4 linked regions of the Homo sapiens genome follow. The protein of the gene in region 2 interacts with the protein of the main gene of each other region in a pairwise test. Each region holds a gene or a part of one and is shown on either strand. Other genes may lie near its edges.

Region 1 (7,025 bases), on a different chromosome or scaffold from region 2:
GTTTTTTTTTGTTGGTTTTTCTCCTCAAAGAAACAGAGCAAAATATCTTCATTTTAGCACTGAGAGCCTTTTCATTTCTAGTTCTCACAAAACTGAGCTTGGTGTCTGAATCTTCTTTGATTTTTAGAATGCAGACATTGGTAAAAGAGAAGCTGTTCTTTAACTTCTTAGCTAACACTTTCTGTAAACATTCATTTCTGGGCCTAGGTCATCTTTTTACTTGAGATACCAGATCATCATGTTCAGGTTGTGCCCTCTATGATACATGCCATCTCATTCCTCTGGTTTCAGAAGACAAAACTGAGGGCAACTCCTGAAGCAATACAGAACCGTCTTCAAGATATTGAAGAAAGGATCTCGGAGCGTCAGCGCATTCTTTGCCTGCCACAGAGATTTGCAAAGAGCAAACAGCTGACCCGGCGAGAAATGGAAATAGAAAAGTCTTTATTTCAGGGAGCTGATCGTCACTCCTTCCTTAAGGCTCTTTATTACCAAGGTATGTGATCCCCACTGACTTTGATATATTCTTTCACTGAGAGAAAGATTAAACAGCAGGGCATTAAATATGAAGAGTTAGTGAAGGGAATAGGGGAAAGACAAATTGTCACTACTTTTGAGAAATGTATAATACCATAAGAGAGACAAATATGTGCACAGTTAGTTGCATGACAACATGGAAACTGCTATTATAGAGATTTGAATAAAATGCTGAGGTAGTGCAGAACACAGAGCATCTAAGTCTAGTTGGGGGAGTCAGAAGTTGACATTTATACTAACTCCTGATGGATCAATGGGCATTTGTCAGGTAAATAAAGGGGAATGGAGATTAAAGGTAGTAAATAGCAACAGGATTATGAAAGAACCTGGTGTGTCTAAGGAACAATGAGAAGTTTAACGTGGCAGGAGTAGAAGAAGTGGCAGGGAATGACAGGAGGTGACACTGGAAGGAAGGGGAGGCGAAGCTAGATTGTGAAGGGTCTTTAGGCTGAACTACAAATTAGCACAAAATATATAGATAAATAGTATGTGTCTTAACCAGAAGGATTTAGTTTGACAGATAAGTTTTACTAGACGCTGTGGAAGGTGCATGGAAGTTTAAGAAATGGTTCCTCACCTTGTGCCAAGTATAGTCTGGTTGGAGAGATAAACATGTAACATTTAGTGACAATACTAGATACATTTGTTAAGTGTTGTTGGAGTTCAGAGGAGGCAAAGGCCACTGTGTATTGGTGTGATTGAAGAAGCCCTCTCAGAGGAGGTAAGATTTAAATGTTCTTTTAATACTACCTATTCTTTAGAAAAGAGAGGTAATGACATTTCAGTTGCAACAGATGGTGTGAGCACTAGGGAGTGTGCTAACTATGGAGGAGATGTGAGACAAGGTTAGAAAGGTAGCTAAAAATTTTGAACTGTATTTGGTAACTAGTATAGACTTATACAGAGTTAGTTATCAGTTAGTTTCAATATGGTTGAAGGTTTTTGAACCAGAAGTGACATGATAAAAGCCATATTTGAAAATTATTAATCTGGTGGTCAATAAATAGGATTAGAGAGAGGAAGAACTGGAAGCAGGCAGAATGGATAGGAGATATTACAGTCATTTAGGCATGAAGACTTGGTCTAGAGTGATAGCAGTGAAATTGGAGAGAGGTAGGTTTATAATGGAAGAACTAATAAAACTCGTTGACTGAAAATGAAGGAGGGAGGTCAATGCAGAGGTATGTGTCAAAGATAATCCAGAGGTTTCAAGGCTGTGTGACTTACCAATTGGCAAAATTAAGAAAGCCTTTATGGGGAAATTTCGAGGAAGGATGATGAGTTTGATTTTAAACATGTGGAATTTGTGAGAATGGCAGGATCATCAAATGCAGATGTTGAGGAGACAGTTGGAAATGCAGCCGTGAAGCTCAGGAGAGAGGTCAGAACTAGATATATAGAACTGGGAATCATCTATCCTTAGATAACATGTTAAGGCCGTGAGAATGGATGAATGATTTGTTAGAGATAGAAGGATCATAGACATGGCAGAGCAGTGGTGAAGGAAGGAATGAATGAACAAATGAATAACCTTTTGTGGAGAGACATTTAGCATAATGATTAAGAACATGGGCTCTGGAGGCAGACTGCCTGGGAAAATCCTGGCTCCCCCACTTAACTAGCTATGAGATGCTAGGCAAGTTACCTCTCTATGCTTCAGTATCTTCATCTGTAAAATGAGAATATTAATAGTAGCTATGTTACAGGGTTACTAAGAGGATTAAGTGAGAGAATACATGTAAATCACTTAAAGCAGTACCTGGTATTTGGGGTGGAGGGTGGGTGGTTTATGAATCTGTTCTGTTTCCTATCTTTGAAACTCCTTGCTTTAAACCTTCACAGCATACCACAAAAAGACAAGTGCAGACAAGTACATGACCTCAATGAAGAGGAAGATAAAATTAGGCACAAAAGGCAAGTCGAGAGTTTTCTTATAGTGTTAGACTTAGGAATGTAACCTAGGGTCCCAGTTGAGCACTTATTTAATTCCATATTCAGTATATGACAATGTTTATAGGAAATGATCCAGAGGGAGCATATTATCCTGATACAGAATATTAAAGAGAGGAGTTAGTAGAAGTTGTAAAGCTTTTACATTTACTGCTGTTGTTTTTTCTCTATACATTTAAATTATTGTACCAGACATAAATTGACCTTAATGATTTTTAGATCCCATTTCACAAATAATTCTGAATATTTTTATTAGTCAGTAAAGTATAATTATTGATGATGATGATGATATGATAGCTAATATTTTCTTACTTTTGAAATGAACTTCCAATAAAATTGCATGGGGCTTCTTCTTTTTTGGTGTACAATTCTATGAATTGTAAATCATGTAGATTCATGTAACCACCACCACAATCAAGAAAGAGAATAGCTTCATCACCTTAAAAAACTCCCTCATGCTGTCCCTTTATAGTCATTCCCAACCCACCATAATTCCTGACAATCACTGACTGTTTTCCATCACTGTAGTTTTATCTTTTAGAAAATGTCATGTAAATGGAATCACACAACATGTAACCTTGTGAGACTGGCTTCTTTCACTCAGCATAATGCCTTTGAGACTCATTTGAGTTGTTGCGTGTATCAATAGTTCATTTATTTTGTTGAGTAGTGTTTCATCATATGGACATTCCAAAGTTTGTTTATCCATTCACCCATTGAAGTGCATTCGGGTTGTTTCCAGGTTATGATGGCTATGCATAATATTGATATGAACGTTCTTGTACAGGTTTTTTTGTGAACATAAGTTTTTATTTCTCTAAGGTAAATATCTAGAAGTGGGATTACTGGGTCATATGGTAAGTGTACATTTAACTTTATATGAAACTGCCAAACCATTTTCCAGAGTGGCTGTACCATTTTGCATTTTCACCAGCAATGTATGAAAGTTCGAGTTGCTCTACATCTTTGTCAGCACTTGGTATTGTCAGTATTTATTTTGGTTATTTCAATAGCTGTGAAGTGGTACCTCATTGTAGTTTTAATTTGCATTTCTTTAATGGCTAATGATGTTGAACATCTTTCATTTGCTTATTTGCCATCCTTATATCCTGTTTGCTAAAGTGTCTGTTCAAATCTTTTGCTGTTTTATAATTGGGTTGTTTATTTTCTTCCTGATGACTTTTGAGAGTTCTTTGTATATTCTAAACACAATCTTCTGTTGGATATGTGATTTTCACACATTTTTTCCCAGTCTGTAGCTTGTCTTTTCATTCTCTTAACAGTGTCTTTTGCAGGGCAAACTTTTTTTATTGTGGTAAAATATACATAAAATTTACCATTTAAACCACTTTTAAGTGTGTAGTTCTATGGCATTAAGTACTTTCACATTGTTCTGCAACTATCACAGCCATCCATCTCCAGAAATTTTTCATCTTCCCAAACTGAAACTCTGTACTTATTAGATACTAACTCCCCGTTTTCTCCATCCCCACCAGCCTCTGGCAACCACCATCCTACTTTCTGTTTCTATGAATTTGACTACTCTCAGTATATAAGTGGAATCATACAATATTTGTCCTTTTGTGACTGGCTTTAGTTAGCATAATATCTTCAAGATTCATCTAAGTTGTAGCATGTGTCAGAATTTTCTTTTTAAGGTGGAATAATATCCCATTGTATGTATATAGCACATTTTGTTTATCAATTGATGGATGCTTAAGTTGTTTCCATGTTTTAGCTTTTGTGAATAATGCTGCTACGAACATGGGTATACAAATATCTGTTTGAATACCTGCTTTCAATTATTGTAGGTATATACTCAGAAATGGAATTGCTGGATCACATCTTAATTCTACATGTAATTTTTTGAGAAACTGCCATATCAGTTTCCATAGAGACTGTACCATTTTACATTCCCACCAGCAATGCACAAGATAAGAGTTCCAGTTTCTCCATACCCTTGGCAACACTTACTATTTTCTTAAAAAATAATAGCCGTCCTAATGGGTATGAAATGTTATCTTATTGTGGTTTTGATTTCAATTTCCCTGATGATTAGTGCTGTTGAGCATCTTTTCACATGCTTTTTGGCCATTTGTATATCTTCTTTGGAGATGTATCTGTTCAGATCTCTTGTCCATTTTTAAAATAAGTTTCTTGTTTGTTGTTGAGTTGTAGAAGTTCTATATATATTCTGTATATTAATTCCTTATAAGATATATGACTTGCAAATATTTTCTCCTATTCCAAGAATTGCCTTTTCACTCTGTCCTTTGATGCACAAAGTGTTTAATTTCGATGAAGTCCAATTTGTTGATTTTTTTCTTTTGTTGTCTATGCTTTTGGTGTCATATCCAAGAAATCATTGCCAAATCCATTGTTATGAAATGAAGGCTTTTCCTTATGTTATCTTCTGAGAGTGTTATAGCTTTAGCTCTCATGTTTAGGTCTTTGAACCTTTTGAGTTAATTTTCGTATATGGTATTAAGGTAAAAATTCAGCTTTATTATTTTCATGTTGATATTCAGTTTTCCCAGTGCCAGTTGTTGAAAAAAGACTGTTCTTTCCACACTGAATGATCCTGGCACCCTATTCAAAAATCATTTGACTATATATACCTGTCTTTATGCCAGTACCACACTGTTTTAATTACTGTAACCTTGTAGTAAGTTTTGAAATCAGGAAGTGTGAGAACTCCAACTTTGTTCTTTTTCAAAATTGTTTTGGATATTTGGGGATTGGTTGAGATTCCATATGAATTTTAGAATGGATTTTTCTATTCCTGTAAAAAAATGTTATTGACGTTTTGGTAGGACTTACATTGAATCTGTATATCACTTTGGTTAGTATTGATGTCTTAACAGTATTGTCTTCTAAGTCATGAACATGGGATGTCTATTTATTTGTGTCTTGTTTAATTCCTTTCAGCAACATTTTGTAGTTTTCAGTGTATAAGTCTTTTACCTCACAGAAAATGTTTTCAAGTATTGTTTCAAATCTTGTTTATCAGTTGATCCTTTCATGGGTTGCCTTTTATGTATGTGCATTTATATGTATCTAACAACTCTACCTGTTCATGAAAAAGATATTTTCCTATGTTTTCTTCTGATAGTTATATAGTTATACATTTTACATTTAGATCTATGATCCATTTTGACTACTTGATGTTTATATAAGGTATGAAGTTTAGGTTAAAGTTCACTTATTTTTTTTTTTTGGCTTCAAATGTCCTGTTGTTTTAGAACCAACTGTTAAAAGAGTATCCTTTCTCCATTTACTTGCCTTTGCATTTTTGTCAGAAATCAATTGGCCGAATTTGTGTGTTAATACTTAACCTCATAATTAATGGTGAAAAGTTGAAATTCTTCCCCAAAGATCAAAAATAAGATAAGGATGTCCACTCTTGCCACTTCTGTTCACAGTGGAATGAAATTCGAAATAAATAACAGAAGGACATTTAGGAAAATTACAAATATGTGGAAATTAACACTCTACCAAACAGTCAATGAATTAAAAGGAAATCAAAAGGAATATTAGAACATATTTTGAGGTAAATTAAAACACAGCATGCCAAAAACTTATGGAGTAAAATAAAATCAGTGTTTAGGGGGATATTTAGCTGTAATGCCCATAGTTGTATATGCCCATATTAATAAAGAAAAAAGATTTCAAATTAATAACTGAAATCTCCACCTTAAGAACTTATTAAAAGAAGAGCAAACTAAATCCAAATCAAGCTGATGAAAAGAAATAATAAAAAATGGAGCAAAAATAAATGACATAGAGGAAATAATAGAGGAAGTCAACAAAACCAAAAGTTAGTTCTTTGAAAAGATCAACTTAATTTATAATCCCTTAGCTAGACTGATCAAGTTAAACAGAAAGAAGACTCAAATTTCTAAAACTCAGCTCCACTTTGGTTCTTATTTGTATGGGACATCTTTTTCCATCTTTTTGCTTTTAATCTATTTGTGTTTTTGAACCTAAAGTGTGTCTCATGACAGCAAATAGTTTGGATTATATTTTCTCTTTTTAATCAATTATTTCAATCTCTGCCTTTTGAGTGGAGAGTTTAGTTCATTTATTTTAATGTATTTAATTAGAGTCTGTTAAGGATTTACATCTGCTATTTTGCTTTTTGTTTTCTGTTTCTCTTCTATCTTTTTTGTTCCTCTGTTCCTCCATTTATTCCTTCTTTTATGTTAAATAGATTTTTCCAATGTGCCATTTTAATTAACTTCTTGCCTCTTTTACTGTTTTTGTGTATGTGTGTGTGTGTTAGTGGTTGCTCTGGGGATTACAATTAACCTCTTGGCTTAAATAAATTAATTTGTATTAAAACCAACTTAATTTCAATTATATTAAAAAACTTTGTTTAGCTGTTCTCTACCTCCCATACTTTCTACTGTAATTGTCATACCAATTACATCTCAGAATGTGGCTTTTCATTGAAGTGCCAGGCAGGTCAAATAGTTCCATCCAGGTAAAATAGTGAAAATTCTCCAAGGATGGGGCTTTTATGGTGCTCCAGAACTGGT
Region 2 (7,643 bases):
GAATGCATTAAATTTTGCCTCTAAGCATGACTTTAAGTGCAACCTAAGTCTTTTAACATGTTATACACTCATTACTGTTCAGTTGAAAATATTTTCCAGTTTTCTTTGTGATTGCTTCTACCACCCACAGGTTATTTAGGTTACTTAAGGCCATCTTTTTTTTTCCCCTGAGCACTCACCACATTAACTATTTCCTGTCTTTTAAGCATTTACTTCATGTATAGTAACCAGTTTCTATCCTTGTTCCGGATAAAAATACTAGCTTGAGATAAGTTATTTCATCTGACTACAAATTGGACATTAAGCATGTTTTGTATGTATAAAATACAGCAGTATGACAAAATTCTGTTAACCACCTTAAAGTTGAAATGTAGTTGAATTTTTGACATCTGTAGACAGAAGATTTCTTGAAAATTTCAGTGTTTGATTACAATATAGAAAAATCAGTATAAGCAGTATCTTTTATGATCTTTAAGTGGTTGTAGGAGTACTTACACCTCTTTTTCATATTCATATTGAAATTTAAAGCCATTTTAAAGTAACTTTTTGTTATCCAGTTATTCACTCAGGGTGATCAGATGTCTATTCAAAACAGCCAACAATGAGCTAAAGGAGTGCTGTTCCAGCCAGAATCCTACTGCTACCACAAGTGATGAAAGCACAAGAAATCCTCCACAAAGGTATTCTACAACTAAACTTCTGAACTAAGGGTTGGAGAAAACTGGCTCTTTAAATTTCAAAATAAAAATCAGTTTGTCTATCAATATAAGGCAATAAATACTCATTCACCACCTCTCATGTGCCAGTAATTTCTAGGGCCCCTATAGAAATCTGACTGCTGTGCACATAGAGGGACTGACACAAAGACTTCAGTCACAGGATTCTTTGGGTGGTTCTAAAATAGAAGAGACACTTACAGGTATCTTAAAGATCAGGCATCGTTCCAATCACTTTATAAGAATTAATGAATTATTATAAATTAATTAATACAGCAAACCTGTGAACTAGTCGGTGTAATTCTTGCTGTTATTATTCCCGTTGTCAGATGGGATAAAAGAAGGTAACTAATTTGTGACAGGGGAAAGTCTCAGATAGTGACCAGTGGATTCAGGATTTAAACCCACAATGCCCGATTCTGGACACTCGCGTTTAATTTCTGCGGCCCTTGCAGCTGCCGGCGCAGGCGCTGCACCCAGCGCTGCTCCGCGCGCCCAGCCCCGCTGGGTCCTGGACCCCGCCGGCAGCCGGCAGTGCCTAAAGGTTAGATCTGAAGGATAGGAGAGTGCTGAGAAGGATAATGCTTTTAGGCAATTAATTGTGTGTTCTTTAAATACGGACATGTTAACCACACGGGGCTAGGCAGCGCATGCCTGAGCTGTTTGGAGTAAAAAACTGCAGGACTTTGCAGCTTCTCTCCATCCTGCAGTTCACTTCTGAACTTGCTCCCTCCTCTTAGGATATTCTTAGACTGCCCGGACTTCACCTCAGCTCTGCCATCGCCCAGCCTTGCACTCATTCCATTCGGACCCCCAAATGCTGACCGGCCAGGGGATCCCATGCTACCCTGCAGACTGGTGTGTGCACAAGGAAACCAGGTCCCAGCCTCTGAGGCTGTCAGTGTTTTGTTAGAAAAGAAGGCACAGCTGAGCCAAATAACTAGACAAATGACTAAATGTCTACTTTCTGAGAACTGTAAAAACAATATTGATGCTCAAAAAATATACATATGTATATATCATGGCAGGAATATAGACAATGGCAGTCAGAGGAAATGATCTCTGAAGACATTTGGATAGGATGGGAACTAGTTTATTTTTCTCAAGATGCACTGCCCAGTTATTTCCAGTTATTCAATTTTTTATGGTATTTAAAATCATGGGATACAATATTGGCTTATAACAGTTTATATGAAATATTGTCACGACAAAACTAAAAGATAAAGTCACTATCAGACTATAAGACATGAACACCAGTGGCAGCCACACAGGTGGGCATTTGGAAGCAAACACTGCCTGGCACCAGCTGCATAGCCTTGGGCAGGTGAGGAAACATATGCTTCTCAGTTCCCTTGTGTTAGGAGATGAGATGGTCAAATATTGTATAGAACTTCACTCCAATGCAGTAACTACTAGCCTCATGTGGCTATTTAAATTTATAATTTAAAAAATGGACATTCATTTCCTCCGTCACTCTAGCCTCATTTCAAGTGCCCAAGAACCCCATGGGGCTAGCTTTCATACTGTACAGCATGCATATATATAAATTCTTCACAGAAAGTTCCTCTGGACAGTGCTGGTGCATCAAGAGAGGGTCAAATATGATTTAGATACAGTGCTGGGAAAATATCACAATTAAGCAAATAATAGATGCAGTGCTAGGAAAATATCACAATTAAGCCAGTAATAATTTTATATTCAGGATTCTTATGTTTGTGAATTTGTAGAGAGCTTGGCGTAGAAGCCTGAGAGCTGTGCTGCAAGTCTTTTTCTTGTAAAAATCACTGGGGCTGACAAACAAATCCTGATAAAGAGAAAGTTTGTTTCAGAAAGTTCAAGTGAGGCAGACTTTGGGACAGCTTGCATGCAAAATATAAAACTTGGTAACTATGAAAAGGAGAAAGATAAATCCAACATTTCCTACATTCACGATGAATAATCAGCACCATTTTCAAATAATTATCAAATTAGGAAAAGACTACCTTTTAAAAACATTGAGCCTTCTACTGACCGACTATAAAGACTATATATAAAGTATCCCACAATTTATTTAGGTCTTCTGAAGCTAAAATGTTTTTAATTTTATTGTATAACCTTAATTAGTTTAATTCCTAGGTTAGCTAACTTTTAATGTTGTTATGAATGTTATTAATTTTAAATGTTTACTTCAAATGTTATTGATGATAGAGAAATAAAAATGATTTTCATATATTGGACTCCTGTCCAGTGTCCTTGCTAAATGTACCTATTAAATCTAATAGCTTATCTGTAAATTATTCTCAATTTTCTGTTGCATTCCATCAATAATTTCTTTCCAGTTATAACATCTTTTATTTCTTTGCTATTACACTAGCTAGGACTTGCAATAATAAATACAGATTTTTTTTGCCTTTAGATTTATTTCAGAGAGAAAGTTTTAGAGACCTTTATTTAGATAATTATCTAAATTACAGATGTAATTTAACAGATCCATATTCACATGTATTTCTGCTCCTGTCATTTTTACTAATAGATGTTTCCACCAATATGACTATTTCATGTAACTTTTCAAGTTTTATCTCCTAACTTTGTTCCTGATATTCTCTAATGATTTTTAATGTCTGTTATTAATGTAGTGATAACATATTTGAAATTACTGATCTTGGGTATTAGAGCCTTCTTCATTTTTCCTTGATAAATTTCACCAGAAATTATCTGGCTTCAATAAGCAGTTTAAGGGATTTTACTTAATTTATTTCCCTTATTTAATATTTGTTTTTCTTCATTGCTTTTCTTGCCCTTATTATTTGCTTCATTCTGCTTTCATTGCTTTTACCTACTTAATTATAATTTAATTTGTTGACTTGGGTGATTATAAATATTCAGATATGTTTCCACTTTACAGATTTAGGCAACAAAATTTCCTCAAAGAAACTTATAGAAAAAAAATCCAATAATATATAAAATGATATATCATGACAGAAGGGCTTCTTATTAGAAACAAATTGGTTAGTTAAATATTTGAAACTCATAGCTGCAAATAATCACATTAAGAGAATAAAGGGAAAAACAAAATTGTCTCAAAAAATGTATAAAACTACATAACAGAATTCAGTATGCAGTCATGATACGTACTCTCAGCAAAGTAGGAATACAAAAAAATGATTAATCTACTACATTTATCTGCAAAAATGACAAAACGCTCATACATGGAAATTAAAGACCATTCCTTTGTGGATAATATGGCACAGGATATGTTATGAAAGGCTGTCCTGCCACAACACAGCACAGATGGGGTTGAAAGAAAGGAAGGGAAACAAAGGGCTGCCATGAATTAAACCAGTAGAGAAAATAAAAGCCTGGGTCATGCAGGGGACAGTGTCTTATTAGGCCAGCATCAGGACTGGTTGAAGTCTGGCGCTTCTAACACAGTGGGAAAATGAGCATAGTAATCACAATAAAGAAAGACATCTGAAAGGTGCTAACTTAGCCTCGGATCAGAAGTGCTCTCTGCTAATGCCTTGCTGGTGAAAAGCGTATCCAGTGTAAGCCCTCAGAAATCCCAGAAAACAAAGACCAAAAGAAACGGCGCCTTGTCAACCGAACGAATTGAAAAAAGCTTCCTGCCGCGATCGGGCATTAAAAGAAAAAAACCACAGACATAAGATGGAGTGAATAAAAAAAGAATTTATATAATTCATGGATGAAATGTTTCAGAATCTATAGGATTATATTTTTTTTAAGGCAGACAGATACGAAAATACAACGAAGCGTGCATGACCGAAACCAGAAGAGATTAAAGTAAAACCTCATTCTCCTGAGGAAATCGTGTGAGAAGGGACTTAGGGACTGCCGGAACACAGCGAAGCAGAGGCAGAAGGCAGACAAAAGGGGCTGGGTTGGTCCCCGCCTGTGTGAACGAAAAAATATGTCAGATTGGAAAATTGCGGTAAAAACCAGGCAGAGCACGTACGTTGCCCCCACAGGAAGTGTCCGCCATGCTGCCTGTGCCCGGAAGTAGGTAGGAACACACAGTCAGAGGGACCCAAAAGCAGGGGGGAAGGAAAAAGAGATGCACACTTCCCCCAGAGAAGCCTCCGAGCGCGGCCGCCATTCCGGGCCTCAAGCCCATAAAGAAAAAATACCGGAGAGGTTCTGGCACCATTTCGGGGTGCCAAAGCAGCCATGGAAGAGCCTGCAGCTCCCTCAGAAGCCCACGAGGCAGCCGGGGCCCAGGCAGGTGCTGAGGCAGCAAGGGAGGGTGTGTCTGGGCCGGACCTTCCCGTCTGTGAGCCCTCCGGGGAATCTGCTGCTCCAGATTCAGCCCTGCCACATGCGGCAAGGGGCTGGGCCCCCTTCCCTGTAGCTCCAGTCCCTGCCCACCTCCGCAGAGGAGGCCTGAGGCCTGCCCCAGCCTCAGGAGGAGGAGCCTGGCCCAGTCCGTTGCCAAGCCGAAGCAGCGGCATTTGGACAAAGCAGATCATCTGCAGGTATTATATACATGGGCAGTGCAAGGAGGGGGAGAACTGTCGCTATTCGCACGACCTTTCTGGTCGGAAGATGGCCACTGAGGGTGGCGTTTCGCCGCCTGGGGCCTCTGCAGGTGGAGGCCCTAGCACGGCTGCGCACATCGAGCCCCCGACTCAGGAAGTGGCGGAAGCCCCCCCGGCTGCATCCTCCCTTTCCTTGCCTGTGATTGGCTCGGCTGCTGAAAGGGGTTTCTTTGAAGCCGAGAGAGACAATGCAGACCGTGGAGCTGCTGGAGGAGCAGGTGTAGAAAGCTGGGCGGATGCCATTGAGTTTGTTCCAGGGCAGCCCTACCGGGGCCGCTGGGTTGCATCTGCCCCCGAGGCTCCTCTACAGAGCTCAGAGACTGAGAGGAAGCAGATGGCTGTGGGCAGTGGGTTGCGGTTTTGCTATTATGCTTCCAGGGGAGTTTGCTTTCGTGGGGAGAGCTGTATGTACCTCCATGGAGACATATGCGACATGTGTGGGCTGCAGACCTTGCACCCCATGGATGCTGCCCAGAGGGAAGAACATATGAGGGCCTGCATTGAAGCACACGAGAAAGATATGGAACTCTCGTTTGCTGTGCAGCGTGGTATGGACAAGGTGTGTGGCATCTGCATGGAGGTTGTCTATGAGAAGGCCAACCCCAATGACCGCCGCTTTGGCATTCTTTCCAATTGCAACCATTCCTTCTGTATTAGGTGTATCCGCAGGTGGAGAAGTGCCAGACAGTTTGAGAACAGGATCGTCAAGTCTTGCCCACAGTGCAGGGTCACCTCTGAATTGGTCATTCCCAGTGAGTTCTGGGTGGAGGAGGAGGAAGAGAAGCAGAAACTTATTCAGCAATACAAGGAGGCAATGAGCAACAAGGCCTGCAGGTATTTTGCGGAAGGCAGGGGTAACTGCCCATTTGGAGACACATGCTTTTACAAGCATGAATACCCTGAGGGCTGGGGAGATGAGCCTCCTGGGCCAGGTGGTGGGTCATTCAGCGCATACTGGCATCAACTTGTGGAGCCTGTGCGAATGGGAGAGGGCAACATGCTCTATAAAAGCATTAAGAAGGAGCTTGTCGTGCTTCGGCTGGCCAGTCTGTTGTTTAAGCGGTTTCTTTCACTGAGAGATGAGTTACCCTTCTCTGAGGACCAGTGGGACTTGCTTCATTATGAGCTGGAAGAATATTTCAATTTGATTCTGTAGCATCGTGCTGTGGCATGTGGTCTAGTCTGCTGAGGTTCTGTCGTCTGCTATTGCCTGTTTTCCCTGTGTTGACACTCTTACTGCTTTCAGGGGCTGTTGAGGCAGTGCTTCTGTTTTCTTGTCTATTCTGCATATCTTTCCCCCTAGGATTATGGTGATTATCTGTGTTAAAAAATAAGTCCTTAAAGTTACTGTTTTGGTGAAATTAATATTAATGTCAGCTTATGGCTTTTTTTTGTCATCTCTGTTGTCAACAGGATTAACTCAGTTCTAGTGTAGTGTTTACTGAATTTCCACACTTATTTTGAAGACCCTCAAGAGTAAATGTGGCAGAGTGAAAGGAGAAGTTTTAATTGAACTAGTAGCTTTGTGCTATAATAGCCTTAACAAATGGACCCTTGCAGGGCTTTGCAGCTGCTCATCTGTTTGTTTACAGTTTGTTCTTTCCCTCCTTCCCCTTCAAGTGCACTTGTTAAACTGTGATGAACTTGTGATTTTGTGTTTTACTTGACCAAAACCAAGTGTATATGTTTACATGTTTTTATCCTGTTTAGCTTGACATGAAATAATTTATATTTGGAAATATATATTTAAGAATTATATATATAAAAATATATATGTATAAGAGTTATGTATTTGAAAAAAATATATAAAAGAATATACATCACAATATAATATTTATGTTTATGTAATAAAGTAAATACAGAGCTGAAAGCTGAAGGTCAAAGCCTAACAGGATTGGCTGTTGTGTGGATGTGAGTTGTGTGAATAATCTTTCTGTCCCTCGCACAGAAGCCAGTAATTAGCATCTAATGAAAAGGACTGTTCAAGTGGGTCTGGCCAAATGTGACAGATGCAGATCTTAGAGGACTTACAAAGCACTATATTGGTAATTCTTACAATGGCATTAATAGCTTACTCTATAAATACAGAAATGGTTTTCCTATGCAGTTTAGCCACCTTCTCATTAATTCTTTGTAACAGCAAATCCTAGGCTCAGAGGCACAGTGCTTTGTATTTGATATACAAAGTCTCTAGACTTTCCCAACAAGGGGCTTTTGACAAAAGAGTTCAACATAAAAGTAACAAGATTATAAAAGGGAAAATAGAACAAAAATATTAAAACCAATGAGAATAAAAGAATGGAAAGATAAAATAATAAAATATAGAAAGCACTAAAAACTAAGTGTAAGACTAATATAGAAAATCTACATACAACTTAATTAGATTAAATGAAAG
Region 3 (7,025 bases), on a different chromosome or scaffold from region 2:
AGGATCACTTGAGGCCAGGAGTTCAGGACCAGCCTGGCCAACATGGCGAAACCCCGTCTCTACTAAAAATACAAAAATTAGCCTGGTGTGGTGGAGTGGTGCACGCCTGTAATCCCAGGTACTCGGGAGGCTGAGGCAGGAGAACTGCATGAACCTGGGAGGCGGAGGTTGCAGTGAGCCGAGATTGAGCCACTGCACTCCAGCCTGGGCGACAGAGCGAGACCCTGGCTAAAAAAAAAAAAAAAAGGGAAAAGTGGAGATGTGGGATTAGGAGGGTCCTTGGGGGGAACAAAAGTGGAGGAGGGAAATGGGGGTGTCAAAGGAGGTGACGATGTTGCCCTGGAGGTGCAACGAGGCCCTTGAGGCGCAACGAGGCCCTTGAGGCAAAGCGGCTAGGCATGGGGGCCGTCTGCTGTGGGGTGATGAATCGGCCCTGGGGGAGGGCCGGGGTCACTGAGGTCCTTGTGGGGAATCTCACCCTGAAGAAGGGCTGTTTCTTCACATCTTCTGCATCTCTCTCGCTAGATCCCAGCCTCCGCTCTGGGTTCCTCCGAAGCAGCTTGGAGGAAGGAGCACTGTGTCAGGATCTGTCCCCTCCTGGGCCCCACTGCCCCTCCCCAGGCCCGCCCCACGTCGGGGGTCCTCACCCTTCTCATGATGCCGATGGCTTCGGCCGACAGGAAGCGGGGGTAGCGAACCTCGTCGTTGACGATGCTGTCGAAGACCTCCTCCTCATCATCCCCTGGGAATGGGGACTGGGGAGAGGGAGGCCCGGGGTGAACGAGGCCCCTCCTCTGGCTGCTCCAAACCCAGCCCGGCCTGAGCCCCACACTCTGCTGCAGCTCTTGGGTGCTGGCTTACTTGGGCAGGGAAATGCCCCATTTTATAGATGTGGAAACTGAGGCCAGGGAAGCAGAGCCAGCAGCCCTCAATCACACAACACATGGTGGAGGCAGACTTGGATCCCACCCTGGGCACGCGCAGGTTCCAATGAGATCCGAGACACACAGGGGCGGGGTCTCACCTCGCCAACCAGCATCTCGTAGAGCAGCACACCCAGTCCCCACCAGTCCACAGCTCGCGTGTACGACGTGTCCGTCAGCACCTCAGGGGCCAGGAACTCCGGGGTCCCACAGAATGTGCTGGTCCGGTCCCCATAGCCCATCCCTGGGGACAGCAAGGCCATGTGAGGTTATGGGGGCCAGAGGAGTCACTCAGCCCAATGTGGGGTTGTCCACACAGCCAGCCCTGTCCCAGGGTCAGGGTGGGGGGCACCCCGAATAGGGTTAGGGACCCCATTCCTTCCCCCTCCTTTGTCTAATCCAGAGGCCAGCCCCTCACCCTCCTTGCAGAGGCCAAAGTCTGCGATCTTGACGTAGCCCTCGGTGTCCAGGAGCAAATTGTCCAACTTCAGGTCCCTGTTGGGGGTTGGAGGGGTGGAAAGAGGGATGAGCGGGGGTCTGGGTCCTGTCCCCACAACGGGCAGTGTGCACATGCATGCACACACGCACACACCTGTAGACGATCTTGTGTTCGTGAAGAAACTGTAGGCCCAGCACCACGCAGGCGGAATAAAAGCTGCAGAGAGAGAGAGGCTGCTGAGAGGGGTGGGGCCACCCTGCAAGGAGGGAGGGTCACATAAGCCTGGCTTCCACATCCTCAAAAGCCCCCCAGTCTCCCCAAAGCTCTGGGAGGCTGAGGGAAGCAAGGCCTGAGGGTGGAGGGGTGAGAAGCAGGCTGCCAGCCTCTCGGGGGGACTAAGTGTCAGATGCTGTAGGGGAGGCAGGGGCCCGGGCTGGGGTCCAGGCTCACATGGCACGGGGCTCAGAGAACACGTCGCTGTGGATGTGCAGCATCAGGTCCCCACCGGCCGAGTACTCCATCACGAAGCACACGTGCTCCGGTGTCTGGAAACAGCCGAAGAGGTTCACCAGGAAGGGGTGTCCCGCACTGGTCACTGCCGCCAATATCCGCTTCTCACACATCAGGCTGGGGAGGGGTGGGGGATAGAAGTCAGAGACCATGGCCGCCACTTACTCCAGACTCCCAGATGGCAACCAAAGCCCATACAGAGGGAAGCAGAACTGAGAAACGTCATCTCAGCACCTGGATACAGCCATGCCTGAAGGTAGCACACTCCTGGACTTTTCAGATCCAGACCAATAAATTTCTTTACTTGTTTCAGTCTTTCTCAGTTGGGTTCCTGATTATCAAAAGGATGCTGGGAAGACCAGGCACAATCTCAGTGCCTGTACCGAATGTTTAGAGGGGTTAGGCACTGTGTAGAGAGCACCTGACAACCATGTGTGGAAGGCAATAGCATTCTGCTTCTCCACAACAAGAGGGGTTCTTTTTTTTTTTTTTTTTTTTTTTTGAGACAGAGTCAGGCTGGAGTGCAGTGGTGCGATCTTGGCTCACTGCAACCTCCGCCTCCTGGGTTCAAGCGATACTCCTGCCTCAGCCTCCCAAGTAGGTGGGACTACAGGCACCCGCCACCATGCCTGGCTGATTTTTGTATTTTTAGTAGAGACGGGGTTTCACCATGTTGGCCACACTGGTCTCGATGTCCTGACCTCAGATGATCTGCCCACCTCAGCCTCCCAAAGTGCTGGGATTACAGGCGTGAGCCACCATGCCCAGCCAAGAAGCTGAGGTTCTGAAGGGAGAAGTGACCTCCCCAGGATCTCCAAGCCCATGCTGCAGAATTGAGATTTGAACCCAGGAACCTGACCCTAAAGCAGAGGCAGTATGGTGGCACCACAAAGGGCACAGGCTTCAGAGCCTGAGTCTCTAGCTTTGAATCCTGGACCTGCTGCTTACTGGCTGTGTGACCTTGGGTAAATTGCTGAACCTCTCTGTGCCATCAGTATTTATCTTATAGGGCTACATGGAGGAACAAATGAATAACTTTCCTAAGAGCTATTATTATCTTGGTATTAGGCTAGTAGGTATTAGTGACTTTTTGTTTTGAGACAGGGTCTCACTGTGTTGCCCAGGCTGGAGTGCAGTGGCGCGATCTCAGCTCACTGCAACCTTGACCTACTGGGCTCAGGCGATCCTCCTATCTCAGCCTCATGAGTAGCTGGGGCTACAAGCATGTGCCACCACACCCAGCTAATTATTTTGTATTTTTTGTAAAGATGGGGGTGTCACCATGTTGCCCAGCCTGGTCTTGAAATTCTGAGCCCAAGTGATCCACCTGCCTCGGCCTCCCAGAGTGCTGGGATTACAGGTAAGAGCCACTGTGCCTGGCGTTAGTGACTACTATGAGTCACTCTCCCTGTAGCTCCAAGGAGAGAACTGCTCTGTCATTTCCCAAAAGAGAAGAAAGAGGTCCCCAGAGGACCACGGCAGGTCCCCACCTCTCCACCTCGTCTCGGGCCACAATGTCCCCTTTCTTCAGAGCCTTGATGGCGAACAGCTCCCCACTGGGCCGGAATTCGGAGAGGAGCACCTGGAACCACAGTGGGCAGGGGTGGTTTTAGCGGCCAGCCAGGGACCTGGGGGGTCTCCCAATTCCCTGCCCTCCACCTCACCTTCCCAAAATGACCCCGGCCCAGCACCGCCAGGAACTTGAAATCTTCGAGGGTCAGAGGTGACTTCCTCAGAGGGCTGTGGAGAGAGGCCACTGGTGAGAACAAGGACAGCGGGCAGGGGTGGTGGACAGGGGGCCAGGGAGTGGTGTCACCTGCACAGGGCGGGGCCTGGGGTCTCCTGGGTCTCCGAAGGCAGCTCGGGAGCAGTGGATTCCTGGATGGGGGAGCTCTGTGGCGGAGAGAGGAGGCCAGAGTAAGGGGAGTCAGAGATGCCCTCATAACCACAGCAGCCTCCGAGGCCCTGCAAGATCTGCCCCCGACCTCTCTGTCCTCACCTCTCCTCCCACGCAGCCCCTCACTCACTCTCCTCCAGCCACACGCCTGCACCACCATGGCTGGCTAATTTTTGTATTTTTAGTAGAGACGGGGTTTCACCATGTTGGCCAGGCTGGTCTGGAACTCCTGATCTCAGGTGATCCACCCGCCTCGGCCTCCCAAAGTGCCAGGATTACAGGCGTGAGCCACCATGCCCAACCTGAATTTTTTTTTTTAGAGACAGGGTCTTGCTCTGTCTTCCAGGATGGAGTGCAGGGGCGCAGTCATAGCTCAGTGCAGCCTCCAACTCTACCTCCGCCTCCTGAGTAGCTGGGACTAAAGGCATGCACCACCACGTCCAGCTCATTTTTTTTTTTTTTGAGATGGAGTTTCACTCTTGTTGCCCAGGCTGGAGTACAATGGTGTGATCTTCGCTCACTGCAACCTCCGCCTCCCGGATTCAAGTGATTCTCCTACCTCAGCCTCCCAAACAGCTGGGATTACAGGCATGCACCACTACGCCCGGCTAATTTTTTATATTTTTAGTAGAGATGGGGTTTCTCCATGTTGGTCAGGGTGGTCTTCAACTCCCGACCTGAGGTGATCCACCTGCCTCAGCCTCCCAAAGTGCTGGGATTACAGGCGTCAGCCACCGCGCCCGGCCTAATTTTTGTAGAGATGGGGTCTTGTTCTGTTCCTCAGGCTGGTCTCAAACTTCTGGCCTCAAGCGATCTTCTTCGTTCAGCTTCCTGAGTAGCTGGGACTACAAGTGCAAGCCATCATGCCTGGCTTGACAATGTCCATTTTTTATTATTATTTTTTTTATTTTTGAGACTGAGTCTCACTCTGTCGCCCAGGCTGGGGTACAGTGGTGTGATCTCAGCTCACTGCAACCTCCGCCTCCCAGATTCCAGCAATTCTCCTGCCTCAGCCTCCCAAGTAGCTGGGATTACAGGCGTGCGCCACCACGCCCGGCTAATTTTTGTATTTTTAGTAGAGATGGGATTTCACCATGTTAGCCAGGATAGTCTTGATCTCTTGACTCCAAAGTGCTGGGATTACAGGCGTGAGCCACCATGCCCAACCCATTACTTCTACTTTCTAAAAAATTAGATCTATAAAAAATTAGCCAGGTGTGGTGGTGCACGCCTGTAGTCCCAGTTACTTGGGAGGCTGAAGTGAGAGGATCACCTGAGCTCAGGAGGTCGAGGCTGCAGCGAGCCATGACTGCGCCACTGCACTCCACCCTGGATGGCAGAGCGAGACCCCGTTTCAAAAAAAAAAGATAAAAGATAAAATGCATTCAGGCTGGGTGCAGTAGCTCATACCTGTATCTCAGCAATTTGGGAGGCTGCAGAGGGGAGAACACTTGAGGTCAGGAGTTCAAGACCAGCCTGGCCAACATGGTGAAACCCCATCTCTACTAAAACCAAAAATTAGTTGGGCATGATGGCACATGCCTGTAGTCCCAGCTATTAGGGAGGCTGAGGCATGGGCATCTTTGAACCTGAGAGGCGGAGATTGGAGTGAGCTGAGATCACGCCACTGCATTCCAACGCCCATTCTGGGCGACAGAGTGAGACTCTGTCTCAAAATAAATAAATAAATAAAATGCATTCAGTGAGGTGGGCAAGAGGAACAGGTTACATATGCATCCACCCAGGAAACCATCAGCCAGCCTAGGAGTTGGCAAATGCTGGCTGGTGGGCCAGCCTGTTTTTATAGTTTGTAAGAGCTAAGAATGGCTTTCACTATTTTTTTTTTTTTTAAGAGATGCAGTGGCCGGGCATGGTGACTCACACCTATAATCCCAGCACTTTGGGAGGCTGAGGTGGGCAGATCATCTGAGGTCAGGAGTTCAAGACCAGCCTGGCCAACGAGGTGAAACCCCGTCTCTATTAAAAATACAAAAATTAGCTGGGTGTGGTGGGCACACACCTGTAGTCCCAGCTACTCGGGTGGTTGAGGCAGGAGAATCCCTTGAACCTGGGAGGCAGAGGTTGCAGTGAGCCTAGATCACGCCACTGCACTCCAGCCTGGGCAACAGAGTGAGACTCCATCTCAAAAAAAAAAAAAAAAGAGATGGAGTTTTGCCATGTTGTTCAGGCCAGACTCCAACTCCTGGGCTCAAGTCATCCTCCTGCCTCGGCCTCCCAAGTAGCTGGGACCACAGGTAAACTGATTTTTACATTTTTAAATCGTTGGGGGAATAAAAAAAAACAAAAAAAGGAATAATATTTCATTGCCCATGAAAGTTCTACAATGTTCAAACTTCCGCGTGTACTACCAATAAGGTTTTACTGGAATAGAGACACGCTTACAGTGTACATATATCGTCTGTGGCTGCTTTCAAACTACAAAGCAGACAGGGACTGTCTAGCCCACAAAGCCAAAAATATTGACTCTCTGGCCCTTTCTGGAAAACGCGTGCTGACCTCTGACCGAGATCAAGATAAGGAACATTTCCATCACCCGGCAGGTCCCCTTGTGGCTCCCAGCTTGCGGTAACCTCTGCCTAGAGAACAGCACTCTCTCGATCATTCTATCATTGACATGAGTTTTAAATATGCTCGTTTTGCAAAGTGGTACACTGAGGCACAGAGGTGAAGCGCAGAGCCAAGAGGTGGCACGGCAGGGGTGGGAACCCAGGGGGTCCAGCCGCTGAGCTCACAGTTTTATTTATTTTTATTTTTTGAGATGGAGTCGCTCTGTCGCCCAGGCTGGAGCGCAATTGGTATGATCTTGGCTTACTGCAACCTCCGCCTCTCAGGTTCAACTGATCCTCCTGCCCCAGTTGCCCGGGTAGCTGGGATTACAGGTGCCCACCACCGTACCCGGCTAATTCTTGTATTTTTATTAGAGACGGGGTTTCATTGTGTTGGCCAGGCTGGTCTTGAACTCCTGGCCTCAAGTGATCCACCCGCCTCAGCCTCCCAAAGTGCTGGGATTCCAGGTGTGAGCCACTGTGCCCAGCCTGTTTTGTTTTTTGAGATAGTATTTCGCTATGTTGCCCAGGCTGGAGTGCAGTGGCAGGATCATGGCTCACAGTGGCTCACTGTGTTGCCCAGGCTGGTCTCAAACTCCTGGGCTCCAGCAATCCTCCCATGTCAGCCTCCCAGAAGTGCTGAGATTATAGGCATGAGCAGTTTTTTAACCAGGATGGGGATCTGGGCA
Region 4 (7,231 bases), on a different chromosome or scaffold from region 2:
ATTATTCATGCTCAAGGGCACCTACCATGTATGAGTACGGGCTGCCATATTAGACAGAGTAGCTATAGCTTTTTTCTCCCATTTGACCCATCCCAGAATTAGATGCTCTGCTAAGACATCGAATTGGAAGTCACCACAACAGCTAACAATCTGTTCTGAGGAAGGGCGTGGAACGCATTTCAATTCCACAGATGAATTTGAATTGTGGGGTCAGAGCACATTCTGCCATATTTGCCAAGTCTCCAACAAATTAGGAGGTCCAGGTCTTCATTTGGCAGAAGGCTCACATTCTAAGGCATCCAGCAAAATACATTGAGGATTTTTTTCTGCCAAATAAAAATGATTGTTCTTAGTATCAAGGGAATGTTTGGCAGTGTAGCATTTGCAAAACATCTCCTTCGTCTGCCCCAGGAAAGAGCTGACTTTAGCTTCCAGCCTGGGATCCTCTGAGGGGTCTCCATAACAGGCTACAGATGCAGGTGAGGAAGATTTCCTTGGCTCTGTGACGATGTGCTAAGGCTTGGAGCTTCCCCACCAGGACCCTCAAAGGAAGAGGTTTCTCTTTCAAGTTTTGGTGGTTTACTCCAGACATTCTATTTGCTGTTCTGTGTAGGGGTCACTTGTTATTATAACTTCTTTTACCAAATTTCCAAGATTGTTGTCTTCAAGATCACCTAGACTGGAGATCTGCTATCACTGCCACTTGGGTTAGAAACCCTCCTTCTCCATATCAAAGCATCCCCATGACATGAACCCTCAAACTCTGACCTGTTCCTCCAATCCATTCCTTCCTGTCCCCTGGCTATTGCCCTGGTTTGCGTTTCCTTATTGCCCACCCAGACTGCTGAACCAGCCTACTAATTGATCATCCACGCTGCTGCCAGGGTGAGCTTTCTAAAATCTAGATCCCATTGGGTTTCTTTCCTGGTTTCAAGAGTTTTATTGACTTCTCCCTGTGATCTATACAGTGGATTTCAACCCTCATAAAAAAGGATTGAAACAGAAGAACCCCAAATTTTTTCAGTGAAGTGTTATCAGGAGCTCCAAGATATAAAACAGATAAAGTCTAAGCTGCCCTGGGTAAAGCAAGGACAGAGGCCTCAGAGCCTGCCCTAAAGTCCTCCAGCCCTGCCCCTCTGGGCCCAACACAGCTCTGAGGAATCCCGGAACTCTTCCGGACACAGCTGGGATGCTGCAGCCCAGCGGGAGGATGTCTATGCTTCCTGGCTTGGCATAGCAGGCCCTCCAGAATCTGCCCCAGCCTACCTTTCTGGCCTCATCACCTGCCACTTCACTGCACACACTCTCCATGCCCCTGCTACACAAATCACACAACCCCAATGTGCCAGGCATTCGAGGCTCCACACTGCAGTCCATGCAGCTTCCTCGGCCTGGTGTCTTCCTGCTCATCCCTGTCTGGACAATCCTAACTGTCCTTCCAGGTTTCACTCCAGTGTCATCCTGTATGGAGCCCTCTCTTATAAACAATTCAGACAGAGCACACCCCCACCTTCCCCTGGGAAATCTGTTAAGGTGAACTGTTTAACCACTTAAAACATCTGCTACCCAGACCTGTTTCTCATAGCAATATCATCTTTCTAATCCTGGCCCAGATTATCAATAAATGTGTGTGACATTATGAAGTGAAGACTGTGTCCTTTATTCCATCGTCAGCAGAGGTGAGTGAGCCATACACAATTCCCTGAGGAATCCTGAGAACCTTCAGAGGAAGCAAGAGGCCAAAGAGCCCCGAACTGGAAATCTGAGCCCTTGGGTTCTCATTCTGACTCCATCCCAAACTAAGTCTTTAAATTCAGCTCTACGCTGCCATGGTTTTAGTGCTCTTGGCATAATGATAATGATGATTCTAATGGCTAATATTTATAAGGCAGCTACCACATGCAGACAGACACTGCTCTAAGCATTTTTCATGGATTAACTCATTTTTGCTTTACAGAACAAAGGCTGAAGCATTTACTAGATTGAACCCTTTCTCCAGCTGCATTTGGGACTGAAAGAGACTTTACAGGGATGAGGAAAGGTGAAATGACTGCTCAGGTGACTCAGCTGCTAGCAGAACTGGCTGGTGGCAGGTCTCCTGGCTTTCAGGTGAGTATACTTTCACCCACATAACACTGCTCTATGGGAGTAGCCTGGGTATTGACCTGTCCCTGCAAAATGTTTTACAAAGCATCAACAGAGAGATATGACACTCAGCTATCAGCACAACTCAATACATGAAAAAAATTTCCTAACTTCAAAAGTTAAATGATTCCATTCAAATTTGGTTTACTTTTTAAATTACCATCTAGTAAGGACTATATTCACATAAAATAATTTATTTAACAAGGATACAAATGGTGCCAATAAAATCTAGGGTAGAAAAACTTCTTATCCCCAGCTATAGACATGCTGGTGAGATCCTAACCAGGCAGAGTGGCTCCTTCCACTGTAGTTAAGGCTGCTACCACGTGGCTTCAAGGACATGGTGTCCATGACCCTCTGCTGTACATCAGATCATAATTCTCTTAAAAGCATGGCTCAATTTAAAGTGTATTCCCCGAGAGGCAGGCAGCACGCTATCATGGAAAGAGAAGTAAATCTGAAGTCAAAACTCCTGCCATTGACCAAGTGACCCTGGGGAAATCAGTTAATATGGCCAAGTCCCAGATTTGTCCAGTGGAAAATATTATCAAGGCTATTGGTCCTTCCTAGCTGGGGTTGCTGTGATGCTTCAAGGAGACGTGAATGAAGAGGACTGGTGTGGGTAAATACTCATTTTTCTTCTTTAAGGAATGGTCATACTTGGAGAATGCTATCCAGAACTGTTTCCTCATTGCAACCCTGCCTTAGTCTCTTCCAGATGCTATTAACAAAATACCACAGATTGGGTGGCATATAAATGAATGAAATTTATTTCTCACCATTTTGAAGGCTAAGAAGTCCAAGATCAAGACATCAGATTTGGTGTCTGGTGAGGATCCTCTCCCTGGTTCAGAGATGGCCATCTTTTCACTGTGTCCTCGCGTGACAGAAGGGATGAGGGATTACTCTGGGGCTCCTTTTATAAGGGCACTAATCCCATTGATGAGGGCTCCACCCATATGACCTAATCACCTCCTAATACTATCACCTTGAGGGTTAGAATTTTAACATATGAATTTGGGGGAAACACAAACCTTCAGACCACAGCAACCCCAGAGAAGAGAAATGACTTAGCCAAGATCCACAGTATGATGTGGACACGACAGAGCTTGGAGTCTCCCCTTTCTAGCACTCTATCCTTTACTTAAACTATTTTAGGATTACATTAATTTCATTCTTTTCTTAAGCTAGGAATCTGCAGAAATATTTGTAAATTCATATATTACTTTAAGTCTTAACACTTTGTTTTTGAGACAAAGTCTCACTCTTGCCCAGGCTGGGGTGCAGTGACACAATCATGGCTCACTGCAGCCTCAAATTCCTGGGCTCAAGCAATCCTTCTACCTCAGCTTCCAGAGTAGCTGGCACTACAAATGCACCCACCATGTCCAGCTAATTTTTAAAATTTTTATATAGAAGCAGGATCTCTCTATGTTGCCCAGACTGGTCTAAGTCCTGGGCTCAAGGAATCCTCCTGCCTTGCCTTCCCAACATGCTAGGATTACAGGCATGAGCCACCACCCAGCCCAACCCTTAAAACTTTTAACTGACGCTTAGCATGGCACCAAAATAATATTTATTGAATGTATTCTGGTGCCAACCTCTGGATGCATAATTTCATCTGACCCTCACAACAGTCCTGCAATGCCCATATGATGAGGCCCCACTTCCCATTCCACCTTGCTGGAACTGGAGGTCAGGGAAACTTAGGGAATTTGCCCAAGAGCCCATGAGTGAAGAGTGGTAGAGGAGATTCAAATTCTTTTTCTCTACCAGATCCAGTGCTTTTCCCATTAGCCAAGGGTGCCTCAACAAGGAACGAGAATCCCACAAAATTGGAGGAAAAGGGAAAAAAAAATGTGATTTCAACATGGTGTTCACTAATGCTATTGCAGAAATGTGCACGCAGCATTCACATTTTGACAAAAGCAGTAATTACCATATTAGGAAATAGAGTCGTCTTCTACCTTTTCTAAAAATCTTAAAAAGTAAACATTAAAGCATACTTTGGGCTTGCTAACTTAAAAGGCAAATGGGTGGTGTCGCGTCCACAGCCGTTCTATTTGACCACATTGCAGAGGTACACACGTGCAGGACGGTGATTCTGCAGCTAAGGGTACCTCCTCCCTGAGACTGCACCCCGGCCCTTCTCCCCACCCCTTCCATTCTGAGGGTGACGCCTTCACCTGGGCTCTCTTAAAATCCTGCTGTTTGTGTGCAAATGCGAGTTCAAATTTCTCCCTGAAACACTGGTGGGGGACACTATGCACCCTCAGCTTTAAATGTCACCCTGATTTCCTACATATTCCCTCCTCCAACATACAACCCCTCTCTCCCCCACCCGACCCCCACCACCCCCATCCCCAGCCTCCTGTCCTTCCCATTCCAGGTGCTCCGGGTGCTAGCAAAGCTGGGGTGGGCGGCGCCGGGCAAGGTCTGAAGACTGCGAGGACCCAGCTGCCAGGCGCATTGTGAAGTGGCCCGAGCGTCACAGGCGACCCGGACCTCGGGACCGGGGGGCAGGGCGGGTGTCTGCAGCGTCCTCGGGAGGTCTCAGGCCCCTTGGGCAGACGCTGCGCGTGCCCAGAGGGAGGGATGGCAGGCTTCAGCCACTTCTCCCAGCCGCCCTACCGGGATCTCTGGGAACCCCCGCGGCCCGGCGGAGAACGAGAGTCCACGCAGCGGCTGGGCGGGCAGAGGTCCGGAGCCGACTCCACCGCGTGCTCCCGGGCCGGGACTCCGGGTGCGGAGAGCGAAGCTGGGGCGTGCTGGCTGCACCCGCACTGTTCGTTCACCCCGCGGCCTCGCAGGCGCGGGTGCTCAGATTCACTGCGGGGCAGCCGAAGCCTGAGCGATGTGGCCCGCAGGCCCCTGGAACGTTCCAGGAAGCACCGGCCCCGCAGCAGGCGCCTGGAAGATGCCTGGGGAGAGACAGGAACCAAGCCCCGCCCGGCTTGGCAGCCGCAGACCCAGCTGCCACCCCAGCGGCCGCAGCCCTGCCCGCATTACCCTCTGGCCCAGGGAGACTCGCCCCCGCCTTGCCCCGGAGGAGCTGGCACTCCCCTGAGTGGCACATTCAGGGTAGAAAAGGCACAGGGTGGAGACCAGTGGGCAGTGCCACTCGGCAGACATCTAGGTCGCTGGTCCCCTTCCTCAGTTCCCTCGGAGCGGTCTTCTGTGCCCTCGCAAAAGTTCAAGAGGCACTCAGCCTGCGTGTGCGCCCAGAAGAGAGACAGCAGCGACCAGGTTGAGTCATTAGCCAGCCGGGACTCCCAGCCCTTGGCCTCCAGCAAAGAGATGCGGAGCCCGCACACCCAGGTCCTGAAGAGCAAGCTGGAAGAGGTGGTGGTGTCCTCCCAGGACCAGCAGATTGTGGCCCTGGTGCTGACCCGTCTCAAGAAGGCCCAGAGGATACGGGAGCTGCAGCAGCAGGCGGCTAAGGCCTGGGAGGAGCTGAAGCGCTCGGATCAGAAGGTCCAGATGACCCTGGAGCGGGAGCGCCGGCTGCTGCTGCGGCAGAGCCAGGAGCAGTGGCAGGAGAAGGAGCAGCGCAAGACCCTCCAGAGCCCTGAGCAGCGCGGCCTGCGGCGGGACAGCCAGAGGAAGAACGTGCCCCCGGGGGAAAGCCGGTGGAAGGAGCAACCAGAGGACCAGGAGAGCCCGCGCCAGGAGAAGCTGGAGAAGGCGCGCGCCCAGGCAGAGCACCGAAAACAGTGCCAGGTGCGGCGCCTGCGGGAGCAGGAGAAGATGCTACGGAACCTCCGGGAGCAGCACAGCCTGCAGCTGCAGAGGAGGCTGGTGGAAGCCTGTCGCAAGAGGCACCTACATGCCGTGGAGGGCCAGAAGAAGGTCCAGGACACCAACCTGAGCTCCCTCATCAATTACCAGGCCCGGAAGGTCCTCATGGACTGCCAGGCCAAGGCTGAGGAGCTCCTTAGGCAGCTGTCCCTGGAACAAAGTTTCCAGCGGTCCCAGGAGATACACCAGGGCCTGAGGAAGGAGCGGCAACGCGAGCTGAGGGAGAAGGCCCAGAAGGAGGAAGAGCAGTTGCAGCAGGCCAGGTGGCGCGCAGGGGAGTCAGAGGAACAGAGGAAGATGCGCAAAAGAATTCTGGTGGAGCTGGCGGATGAGAAGATCCGACAGGCCAGGAGTCACGTGCACAAGACCACTAGGGACAAGGTGCAGCACCTCCGGGAGCTCAACCACCTGAGGGAGAAAAACCACCACATCCTGAAACTGAAAGCCGAGAAGGAGGAAAAGTGTCACATTGAGGGCATCAAGGAGGCCATTAAGAAAAAGGAGCAGAGGGTGCAGCACATTTCCCAAGGGAAAGACCCAAACTTCCAGGAGTTCCAGAAGCTCCCTCAGGCCTCCAGGAGAGAGGAGAGAGCGCCTCCCAACAGCTCCCTTGATCAGATGGTACTAGAGGCCCAGCTCCGTGCCTGTCAGCAGAACAGGGGTTACTGAGAACCAAGGACGCCTGGCTTACAGTGCGCAGCCAGAAGGAGATGTGGCAATGTGATTCCTTTTGTAATCTGATTATAATTGAACATTGATTTTAAAAAAGCATGTAAAATAGCTGCAATTTCCTCTCATGAACTGGTTTATTGATTCACTTGGATAGTTTAGAGGGTCGGAGAGAAAATTTTGGGAATTTTTGTTTTTTTAAATTATACTTTAAGTTTTAGGGTACATGTGCACATTGTACAGGTTAGTTACATATGTATACATGTGCCATGCTGGTGCGCTGCACCCACTAACTCGTCATCTAGCATTAGGTATATCTCCCAATGCTATCCCTCCCCCCTCCCCCCTCCCCACCACAGTCCCCAGAGTGTGATATTCCCCTTCCTGTGTCCATGTGATCTCATTGTTCAATTCCCACCTATGAGTGAGAATATGCGGTGTTTGGTTTGTTGTTCTTGCGATAGTTTACTGAGAATGATGGTTTCCAATTTCATCCATGTCCCTACAAAGGACGTGAACTCATCATTTTTTATGGCTGCATAGTATTCCATGGTGTATATGTGCCACATTTTCTTAATCCAGTCTATCATTGTTGGACATTTGGGTTGGTTCCAAGTCT

What was found.
Region 1: the proteins of MKRN3 (region 2) and RBM41 interact in binary tests that used the Homo sapiens proteins (3 or more experiments, as listed by UniProt).
Region 3: the proteins of MKRN3 (region 2) and PKN1 interact in binary tests that used the Homo sapiens proteins (3 or more experiments, as listed by UniProt).
Region 4: the proteins of MKRN3 (region 2) and CCDC185 interact in binary tests that used the Homo sapiens proteins (3 or more experiments, as listed by UniProt).

Annotation. Positions count from the first base shown.
Region 1 is NC_000023.11:107,108,823-107,115,847, reverse strand, and holds part of RBM41 (RNA-binding protein 41), read left to right. Parts: intron 1-291; coding exon 292-496; intron 497-2,379; coding exon 2,380-2,451; intron 2,452-3,309; coding exon of another isoform or gene 3,310-3,344; intron 3,345-7,025. UniProt on the Homo sapiens protein: May bind RNA.
Region 2 is NC_000015.10:23,560,903-23,568,545, forward strand, and holds MKRN3 (E3 ubiquitin-protein ligase makorin-3), read left to right. Parts: upstream 1-4,771; 5' UTR 4,772-4,880; coding exon 4,881-6,404; 3' UTR 6,405-7,142; downstream 7,143-7,643. UniProt on the Homo sapiens protein: E3 ubiquitin ligase catalyzing the covalent attachment of ubiquitin moieties onto substrate proteins.
Region 3 is NC_000019.10:14,464,305-14,471,329, reverse strand, and holds part of PKN1 (serine/threonine-protein kinase N1), read right to left. Parts: intron 3,766-7,025; coding exon 3,689-3,765; intron 3,613-3,688; coding exon 3,537-3,612; intron 3,455-3,536; coding exon 3,363-3,454; intron 1,990-3,362; coding exon 1,813-1,989; intron 1,579-1,812; coding exon 1,516-1,578; intron 1,419-1,515; coding exon 1,342-1,418; intron 1,168-1,341; coding exon 1,025-1,167; intron 756-1,024; coding exon 648-755; intron 560-647; coding exon 479-559; intron 1-478. UniProt on the Homo sapiens protein: PKC-related serine/threonine-protein kinase involved in various processes such as regulation of the intermediate filaments of the actin cytoskeleton, cell migration, tumor cell invasion and transcription regulation.
Region 4 is NC_000001.11:223,388,736-223,395,966, forward strand, and holds CCDC185 (coiled-coil domain-containing protein 185), read left to right. Parts: upstream 1-4,679; 5' UTR 4,680-4,740; coding exon 4,741-6,612; 3' UTR 6,613-6,730; downstream 6,731-7,231.